Regions from separate parts of the Homo sapiens genome. Here region 1 is linked to region 2. The links come from fine-mapping of genetic effects on plasma protein levels. Region 2 holds a variant in brackets. A gene starts in the other region. All regions are shown on their reverse strands.

Region 1 (5,373 bases), not on the chromosome of region 2:
CCTTCCAGTGGAAATAACATTTAGCATAGTGACTACTGCACAATTAAAAAAAAAAAAACCTACTCAAAGACTCTACAATGTCATACTAAGACTTCCAACTCTTAGGCCAGGCAAGGTGGCTCACTCATGTAATCCCAGCACTTTGGGAGGCTGAGGCAGAAGGATCACTTGAGGCCAGGAGTTCAAGACTAGCCTGGCCAACATGGTGAAACCTGGTCTCTATTAAAAATGCAGAAGTTAGGCATGTGTGGTGTAAAAATACAAAAGTTACGTAGGTGTGGCGATGCGTGCCTGTAATCCCAGGTACGTTAGAGGCTGAAACACAAGAATCGCTTGAACCTGGAAGGCAGAGGCTGCAGTGAGCTGAGATTGCACCACTGCACTCAAGCCTGGGCAACAGAGTGAGACTGTATCTCAAAACAAACAAACAAACAAACAAACAAACAAACAATAAAACAACTTCTCTTTAAGAAAAAAAAAAAGATGGCCAGGCACGGTGGCTCACGCCTGTAATCCCAGCGATCTGGGAGGCCGAGGCAGGCAGATCGCCCGAGGTCGGGAGTTCCAGACCAGCCTGGCCAACATGGTGAAACCCCGTCTCTACTAAAAATACAAAAATTAGCCGGGCCTGGTGGCAGGTGCCTGTAATCCGAGCTACTCGGTAGGCTGAGGCAGGAGAATTGCTTGAACCTGAGAGGAGGTTGCAGTGAGCCGAGATCATGCCATTGCACTCCAGACTGGGCAACAGAATTGAGACTCCATCTCAAAAAATAAAGAAAGAAATAAAAAATTAAAAAAAAAATTCCAACTCTTGGAAAATTCCCTTTAAAGAGTTACGAATTAAGCTGGTTTATTTATGTAATAAACGCTTCGCACAGTTCTTACAATGTGCCTGCCAACCTTATTTAGGTAGGTACAATTAAGACTTCCACTTTACACACCAGAAAATAAGGCACAGAGTCGACACAGCCACTGAGTGTCAGAGCAAGAATTGGCACTCATCCCGTGAGCGCCTCAGTTCTTTTTTTTTCTTTATATATACTTTAAGTTCTAGGGCACATGTGCACAACTGTGGCACATATACACCACGGAATACTATGCAGCCATAAAAAAGGATGAGTTCATGTCCTTTGTACGGACATGGATGAAGCTGGAAACCATCATTCTCAGCAAACTATCGCAAGGGCAGAGCGCCTCAGTTCTTAAACCACTCTTCTATGCTGCGGCAGAATCACTGGAAGTCTCAGGGAGTCCTGAGTGCGCAATTCTAGGAAAAGTATCTATATCTGTAAGAAAGAAGGGGCAGGGAATCTAACGGTTCTCAGCTCTTGAAGGCACATTAGATTCATTCAAGGTCCTCTCTAAAAATACACTTTCTTGGGCCTCCACGAGAAAAATTCTATTCAATTAGTCGTGGGCTTGCATCCGTATTTTTAGTCTGTAAAAGTGGAATGTTATCTCAAATCAGTGGTTTTCAAACTTTTTATATTCTGCGGACCTTGACACGGGCCCCCAATACCCTGACACGGTTACTTACAATCCGGGAGAGAGTGGGAGAAAGGGGGAGAGAGGGAAGGGGAGAGGGGGAGGGGAGAGAGAGAGAATGAATGAGAATGAATCTTTTAGAGAGGTAGAGGGGGTTGGCCCGTGCCACAAACCACCTCTCAGGTTTGAGTGAAGCCTTCGTTCTCTCTCGTGCAGAGACCATGCCATCCTTCCAGAAAGGAGCATTTTAGGACGTTTTAGGACGAGAGACCTGTAATTGGCCTAAGACTCAGGTGCAGGTGGAGGAAGCATCGGATTTACAACAGTGGTCCTGCCTTCTTCGATGTGACTTCCAGTTTTAAATTCAATTCTAATTTACACAAATCCCACCCACTATGTAAACTTGTTGGAAAATGTCCTGCACTCTGCACTTCGTGGCATTTAAAACTTCCACACACGCGCGCGTTCTTTCTCGAAGCCCCGTGATTGCTTAGCCTCGCTGGGCAGCTTGGCACTGCTGGGAGCTTGGCTCGCCCTGCCGGGGCCGACGCCGCCCGTCCCGCAGGAGCCCGCGCGGGGCTCAGGGCACTCAGGACTCCGCATGCGTCCCGGCTCCAGGTGGGCCCCGGCACCGCCAACCGCAGGAAACCCGCCGAGCCCTAAACGTCTCCCAAGCGGCTGCAGTCTGCGACAGAGAGTGTCCCTCGGTGGAGCGCCCTGTGGCTGCCCAGGCTACAGCCGTGGCCGAGGCGAGGACACACTTCTGACCTGGGGCTCCAGCAAAGACTGTCCGCGAGCGGCGACTCCATGCCCGCAGCCCTCCGCCCAGCTCAGCCGCCCGGCCGCGGGCACCAGCAGCCGCGCCACGAAAGGGCGCACCGCGCGGGCGCCGTCTCTCCTAGGTGCGAAGGCGGCTGAGGCCCCGCCCGGGAGGCACCCGCGCGGCTCCGGAGTGGGCCGGAGGGACGTCCGGGGGCGGGGCCCGGGCGCGCCCGCCCTCTGACCGGGCTATAACACCCGGCCCCGCCGGGCGGCCGCGGGTGGGTAGAGGTGCGCGCCTGGGACCTGGTGAGGCTGGGGGTGCGCGGGGCCGGGCGCAGCTGTGGCAGCTGCCGGACGGCGGAGGCGCCAGGAGGAGGAGGAGAGGGAGGCGCGGGCGGCTGGGTCGAGGGCACCGAGGCTGCCCGTGCTCCCGGTCTCTGGTTGCACGGCTCACTCCCGAAGGTGTTGCTTCCAGCTTTTGCCTCCTTAGGAGGCAGGGAGCGTCAGTGTCGGGAGACCCTGAGACCGGAGTACCGAGACGTAGCTGGTGATGCCCCCGCCTGCCCTCATGTGTTCTCAGGTTCTTCTTATTTTTATTCATCTCTAGAACATGGACTTCCCGTGCCTCTGGCTAGGGCTGTTGCTGCCTTTGGTAGCTGCGCTGGATTTCAACTACCACCGCCAGGAAGGGATGGAAGCGTTTTTGAAGACTGTTGCCCAAAACTACAGTTCTGTCACTCACTTACACAGTATTGGGAAATCTGTGAAAGGTAGGGTCCGTCTCGTGAACACTTTGCCAAACCCTCAGTCCTCCCTTTCAGTATTCATTAAATATGCCCCAGCTTCCTGTCTGCTCTTCCACGCACCTACTCTGAGTGGCACAGAACAAGTCAACCGGTACCGTGCGTGTTGGTTGTTTTCTGCTTTTGTTGGGAGGAATAGTAGGAAGAACTGAATTTTACTGGACTTGTCCATTGTAATTCAGTGTCACTGAGTCCTTTCCATTATTGGAGTTCTTCTGTCTTTTTGGATCTTGCAGACATTGGTTATTTGGGATGTATGTTTTAGTTCCTTTTCAAGATAAACTCCCAAGTAAGTCCGTTTATCCGTTTCAGTTCCCCTTTGTGTGGGCTTCTTTATATATGACTTGGACTGTTAATGTCATTTCTTCATGTCTCTTTTAAACTGAAATAATGCAGTTTTGTTGGTAAGATTTCTGTGTCATCTGTAGTTAGCCTTTTATTTAAAGTTATGCAAAACTATCATTTCTGCAAGTTTCTTTTAATCTAAGTAGTACAGTTCTGTTGGTTAGATTTGTGTCGTGTATAATTAGCCCTATGGCTTAAAGTTATGCAAAAAAGTGGTTCTATGATTAAAGGCTGTTTTTAAAATGTATCCATTTGAAGAAGACAATGCTAGATAATGAATATATATTAGTAGTGATTGAAACTCTTCCCAGCATTTTCATATTTATCATTAATAATTTATTGTTCTAAGTTAGAAACTACATAAAGTTATTTTCATTTTTATAGACAGCAAGTTTGAATCAGATAAATTAAATAATTTGTTCAAGGTCTCCCAGATGGTGAATTTTATAGCCAGGACTGGCACCCATCCGGCCAAGGCAAATAATTTGATCAGATATCGTTATTTCATCTTTCTTTCTTTCTTTCTTTCTTTCTTTTTTTTTTTTTTTTTTTTTTGGTCAGAGTCTCGCTCTGTTGCCCAGGCTGGAGTGCAGTGGCGTGATCTCGGCTCACTGCAACCTCCGGCTTCCTGAGTTCAAGCAATTCTCCTGCCTCAGTCTCCCGAGTAGCTGGGATTACAGGAATGCGCCACCACAGCTGGCTAATTTTTTTGTATTTTTAGTAGAGATGGGGTTTCACCATATTGGCCAGGCTGGTCTCAAACTCCTGACCTTGTGATCCTCCTGCTTCGGCCTCCCAAAGTGCTAGGATTACAGGTATGAGCCACCGTGCCCGGCCGAGATACCATTATTACTTAATCATCTTTTATTATCCTGATGTTCCCAAAGAGGTTACCAGAAAACTTAGTCCTTAAATCAAAAGTTTCATAAATTTTATGCAATTTGGATCTCAACTTTTTGTAAGGTGTGTTCAAACTCTACCTTGATTTTAGCTCTGAACTTTTGAGTCAATTGAGAGTCTCATAATTACCATATTCTTCATCATTTTTCAAAAAAATCAAGGCTATGGCTTCTATATTAAAGAAAAAGTATTATATAAATGTATTTATGTGCAATGCGAAGTCAATATCCTGGGCTGTGTGTAATAGTAACTTTGTTTTTAAACAGCATTGCCAAAGAGATGGTGCCAGAATTACTCTATATTGCTCTATAATCCAAAATTATAGAGGTTGGGTGTGTGAGAAATCATATCTTGAATCAGCATACGTATTCAGCCTTCTGAAATCATTTTTCCCTAGGGCTAGAGTAGAGCAATTTAAAAAGATCTAGGAATACTAATTATATTAATTAAAAATATATAGAACACAACTAGCTTGAGTTATTGTTCAGTCATCATTTCAACCACAAGATGATGAGGATGTTGTTAATTTTAAGTACTAAGTGATTTGGTAAGGTTTTGTATTTTCAAACACAATGTGCTTGTGACAGTTGGGGGCTCTCTTTCCTAATATGAATCAGCAGTTGTGATCTATCCTGCATGATATCAAACCACAATCACAGTGAAAGTCAGCAGGCTTAATTTTGTTTTTAATTTTACCTTGTATGCACTCTTGCGGTTAAAGGCTTGAGGAGTTATCATGTAAAAATAAAATCTGACACTAGTGGTTAAATATTTGTGTTGAATATGTTGTTCTGAATAATAACTCGGATTAAGAAAAATCCCAAATCTGCCATTTGGCTCCAACTGGTAGATGAAACTGTATGCCAGTAACTGGGAGTCAGTTGCCAAAGTGTCACTGCACATTAGTGTGACAATTGAGAGATGGTGCTCCTTTGTTGGTGGTCTTTTTCACTAGATATTTTCCCTAACCATTCTGCCCTCTGATGTAAGATAAGTTTGCTTAGAAAACAGAATTTATGACCAGGCCCAGTGACTCATGCCTGTAATCCCAGCACCTTGGGAGGCCGAGGCGGGAGGA
Region 2 (5,373 bases):
CCTGACCTCAAGTGATCCACTCACCTCAGCCTTCCAAAGTGCTGGGATTACAGGTGTGAGCCACCGCGCTCGGCATATTCTTCACTGTTTTATTCCCCACATTGAAACAGTTTCTAGCACTTAGCAGATGCTCAATAAATATGTGTTGAGGAACGAATGACTCTCTAACTTGCCAAAGGGAGCAAGTGTGGATTTGAAGATGTACTGAGCATTTACAATGTGCCAGACACCCTATAGGCCTTCTGCTTTACTTCCCCACAGAACCACCATTTCACAGGAAAGGAAACTGAGGCTCACAGTAATGCCTCTCTCTTAAGATCACACAGGGAGTAAGGGGCTCTATGCCAGCCTGGGGACTCAGGTCCCACCAAGCTTGTGTCCTTCATTACCCCACAAGACCATCTTTTTTTTTTTCAATTTTTTTTTTTTTTTTTGAGACGTGGATTCGCTCTTATTGCCCAGGCTGGAGTGCAATGGCATTATCTCAGCTCACTGCAACCTCCGCCTCCCAGGTTCAAGTGATTCTCCTGCCTCAGCCTCCCAAGTAGCTGGGAATAGAGGCATGCACCACCATGCCTGACTAATTTTGTATTTTTAATAGAGACGGAGTTTCTCCATGTTGGTCAGGCTGGTCTCAAACTCCCAACCTCAGGTGATCTGCCCAACTTGGCCTCGAACCCCCGATCTCAGGTAATCTGCCCGACTCAGCCTCCCAAAGTGCTGGGATTACAGGCATGAGCTATCGCACCGGGGCTGGCTTGTATGCTTTTTGTTTTGTTTTGTTTTGTTTTGTTTTTTAAATAGAGACAGGATCACCGGGCATGGTGGCTCACACCTGTAATCCCAGCACTTTGGGAGGCTGAGGCGGGTGGATCACAAGGTCAGGAGTTCAAGACCAGCTTGGCCAAGATGGTGAAACCCCATCTCTACTAAAAATACAAAAAAATTAGCCGGGCGTGGTGGTGGGCGCCTGTAATCCTAGCTACTCAGGAGACTGAGGCAGAGAATTGCTTGAACTGGGGAGGCAGAGGTTGCAGTGAGCCGAGATGGCGCCACTGCACTCCAGCCTGGGCAACAGAGCGAGACTCTGTCTCAAAAAAAAAAAAAAAAAAATAGAGACAGGATCTCGCCATGTTAGCCAGGCTGGTCTCAAACTCCTAGGCTCCAGCAATCCTCCCACAGTGCTGGGATTACAGGTGTGAGCCACCGTACCTAAGCAAAACCATCTTTTTTTTTTTTCTTTTGTGACGGAATGTTGCTTTGTTGCCCAGGCTGGAGTGCAGTGGTGCAATCTTGGCTCACTGTAACCCCCACCTTACTGGTGCAAGCAATTCCCCTGCCTCAGCCTCCCGAGTAGCTGGGATTACAGGTGCACACCCCCATGTCAGGCTAATTTTTTGTACTTTTAGTAGAGACAGGGTTTCACCATGTTGGCCAGGCTGGTCTTGAACTCCTGATCTCAGGCAATCCGCCCGCCTAGGCCTCCCAAAGTGTTAGGATTATAGGTGTGAGCCACGGCGCCCAGCCCAAGACCATCTTTTAAAATGTGGCCTGGATGGGAGTCCGGGAAACTGTCCCTGACGTCTGAGATCCTTGAGATCTAGCTGTGTGACCAGAAGGATGCTGTCAGCCTCTCTGGGACTTGTTTTTTTTTTCAATCTGTTCATCTTGGACATCCTCCAGGGCTCCACACAAACACACCCCAGCCCTCCCGTGCCCTGGGAAGGGTTCTAACCACATCTTGGCAGGAAGTTCACTCTGTGTGATGCGGTTGATGAATTCCCGAGTGTAGTCCTCCAGGGTCTTTCCTAACTCCTCCAGGCCATCAAAGGGGTTGGAGACTTCTGGAGCCCCCTAGGCTGGGGCTGGGCCTGCCAGGAAGATGAGGCAGGGGTGCAAAATTTGGTTGTTGTTGTTGTTGTTGTTGTAGTTTTGAGACGGAGACTTGCTGTGTCAAATGGTGCGATCTCGGCTTACTGCAACCTCCGCCTCCTAGGTTCAAGCAGTTCTCCTGTCTCAGCCTCCCAAGTAGCCAAGCGCGCACCACAACGCCTGGCTGTTTTGTATTTTTAGTAGAGATGGGGTTTCACCATGTAGGCCAGGCTGGTTTCGAACTCCTGACCTCAAGTGATCTGCCCGCCTCGGCCTCCCAAAGTGCTGGGATTACAGGCATTAGCCGCCACGCCCCACCAAAAATTTGTTATTGGAACCCCCTTGGGGTGGGATCCCGGGGATAGATAAGGAGATCCTTGGGGATCATGTGGTTAGAATGGGGAGGATACTGAAGTGACCGCGTGGGGCTCAAGCCGCTGGGAATTGCCTTACTCAGCACTGACCTCCTCCCACAGCCCATCGCCCCATCACCCACTTTCAAGGCTATAAAAGGAGGACAGCCAATCCCAGAGGTGTGGAGATCCATACGTCATCGGTTACTAGGGCTCTCCTGGGCAGATTTGGCGCCTGCCGGACTGAGCCTGGGCGAACCTGGAGACCCACTCGACCACAATGGGGCAACCACGACCAAGAAGGGGCCCCAGAGCTCTCAGAGGTCCTCTAAGCCGGGACCCCAGGCCTGTAGCCACCTTCACTCTTCCAAATCTCCAACTCCGCAATTCTCCCATCCCACTTTTACCTTCCAAGAC[G/C]ATCGACAGAACCACCACCAGGACCGGGAGCGACAGGAAGAGCCTCATGGCGAGGCCGGAGGGGCACCCTGGAGGCGGAGGCAGGGGTTCAGGGGATCAGTGGCACCCTCCTCCCTCCCTCCCACGATCCCCTCATCTCCCTTTATGAGTTCTTGCAGAGTGGAGGCGGGTGTCCCTCCCAAGCACTCAACAACCTGAATCCTTGCTGGAGGGCTTGGTTGGGAGGTCCTGTCCTGCCCGCAGGACCTTTATCAGGCTGGGGAGGGGGCGGGGCAGGTTGATGTTGATCTCCCTCCTCCTGAGCCTTCCCCTGGAAGATTGCCTCCTTCTGCCCACCCAGGTTTTTCTCCTCTGCCCCTGGCCCGTGGGCGTTGGGGTCAGGTGGGGTCCTGACCATTTCCCTTAGCTCCGAAGCCCTTTACCATTCAGCACCCTCACCTCCCAATCTCCCTGACTCTGGGGGGTCCTCAGACTACCATAGCTCCTTTCCCCACTCAGAGGACAGCCTCGTCCTGTCCCTGTGGCCATCTTCCCTCAGGGGTCTCCCAGTAATAACCCTGTGATCTCATCCCCCCCTCATTCACACCGTGTCCCTAGATCACCTCTTTCCCTCACTTCCCCTCTCTCAGCAAGCCTCCTCAGCCCCAACAACTTTTCCTTTATGTTGCTGGGGCCTCCCAGTTGGCCCCGCAACCCTGCCCTGCGTGCCACCTCCAATTTCTTTCAGACCAGCCCTTGAAACATCCCAGACCACCCTGATATTCTCTGGGCTCTTAACTTGATGATTTTCAGTCTCCCTTTTTTGCAAAGGGAAGGGGTCGCCTTAGCTGGACACTAAAAACCTCACCTGCATTGGCCAGGCATGGTGGCTCATGCCTGTAATCCCAGCGCTTTGGGAAGCTGAGGAAGGAGGATCACTTGAGCCCAGGAGTTAAGAGACCAGCCTGGGCAATATAGGGAGACCTCATCTCTACAAAAAAGTTCAAAAATTAGCTGAGCGTGGTGGCGCACACCTGTAGTCCCAGCTATTCAAGAGGCTGAGGTAGGAAGATTGCTTGAGCCCAGGAGTTCGAGGCTGCAGTGAGCTGTGATTGCGCCACTGCACTCCAGCCTGGTGAGACAGAGTGAGACCCCATCTCAAAAAATTAAAACCTTCAGCTGCAAAGCTCTGAGTGTATGCCCCTTCTTCCCTTCCACCGGGCCTCACCCCCTTTGGCTGGCTACCTCCCCCAAACACTCTATCTGCTCTTATTCACCCTCTGATGCCCCTCCTGGCACCAAGCCTGCTTCCCACCATCACCACATCCGTCCCCCAGGGCTGGAGTCCAATTCCTTCCCCACCAGCTGCCTTTGACCGCCAGTGACCCTGGCAGCTGATGGGGAGGGTGTCCTCAGCCCAGCCTCAGACTCTAGTTCGGCTGGCCTTGTGCCCCCACAACCACGTGTCAGCCTGGCGGTAGGGGGATGGTTGTGAAAGGGACAGCATAGACAAGACCCTGGCAGGATTGCAACATCCCTCTGGCCAGCTCAGAGCTTCCAGTCCCTGTAAGCCCCAGGGGCCCCCCTACTTCCTCAACTGAGCCCAGCATTCCCCAAACATCCACCCAGATGTCTGCTTCCCCGATCCCACAAGAATAGAATAACAATGCTCCTGATTTTCCAACCTCATCCTCCCCTCTGCTATAGGGGTTTCTGTTTAATAGATGGGGAAACTGTCACACAACCAAGAACATCCAGTAGGGCTCAGTGAGGGGCAAAGAGGGGGCTACTGACTGGGCGCAGTGGCTCACACCTATAATCCCACCACTTTGGGAAGCTGAGGCAGGAGGATCTGCTTGAGCCCAGGAGTTTGACACCAGCCTGGGCAACACAGTAAGACCCTATCTCTAGAAAAAAATTAAAAATTTGGCCAGGTGCGGTGGCCCACGCCTGTAATCTGTGCACTTTGGGAGGCCTAGGTGGGTGGATCATTTGAGGTCAGGAGTTCTAGACCAGCCTGACCAACATGGTGAAACCCCGTCCCTGTCAAAAATAGAAAAAATTAGCCGGGTGTGGTGGCACAGGCCTGTAATCCCAGTTACTTGGGAGGCTGAGGCTGACCAACATGGAGAAACCCGTCTCTACTAAAAATAGAAAATTAGCCAGGTGTGGTGGCACATGCTTGTAATCCCAGCTACTTGGGAGGCTGAGGCAGGGGAAGGTTGTGGTGAGATGAGATTGTGTCACTGCACTCCAGCCTGGGCGACAGAGCAAACCTCCATCTCAAAAAACAAAACAAAACAAAACAAAAAAACCAAATGTTTATTTGCCACAAAAACCCTATCAGATGGGCGTCTTTATCATTTCCATTGTACAGATGGGGAAACAGGCTTCGGGGTCGGGGCATAGCCACTTACTGACGACTCCCCACCCAGCAAGTGGTTTTGAACCCGGACCCTCTCACACTACCTAAACCACGCCAGGACAACCTCTGCTCCTCTCCACCGAAATTCCAAGGGGTCGAGTGGATGTTGGAGGTGGCATGGGCCCAGAGAGGTCTCTGACCTCTGCCCCAGCTCCAAGGTCAGCAGGCAGGGAGGGCTGTGTGTTTGCTGTTTGCTGCTTGCAATGTTTGCCCATTTTAGGGACATGAGTAGGCTGAAGTTTGTTCAGTGTGGACTTCAGAGGCAGCACACAAACAGCTGCTGGAGGATGGGAACTGAGGGGTTGGAAGGGGGCAGGGTGAGCCCAG

Evidence for each region. PIP is the posterior inclusion probability: the model's chance that the variant is causal. Protein levels are from antibody-based Olink assays in UK Biobank. Linkage for the fine-mapping came from a reference panel and not from the study's own genotypes, which makes the PIPs less certain.
Region 1: CPM starts here. The variant in region 2 is fine-mapped to the plasma level of the CPM protein (UK Biobank, PIP above 0.99).

Annotation. Positions count from the first base shown.
Region 1 is chr12:68,930,322-68,935,694 of GRCh38, reverse strand. CPM (carboxypeptidase M) reads left to right here and starts at 2,524. Exons shown (of 9, transcript NM_198320.5): 1 at 2,524-2,553; 2 at 2,855-3,017. The coding sequence starts at 2,858. RefSeq lists silencers at 2,145-2,254, 2,285-2,644.
Region 2 is chr19:44,924,293-44,929,665 of GRCh38, reverse strand. It overlaps the pseudogene APOC1P1. Among named protein-coding and RNA genes, the nearest start is that of APOC1, 12 kb to the right of the region's middle. RefSeq lists an enhancer at 1,432-2,324. The variant G/C (reference allele first, on the strand shown) is at 2,643.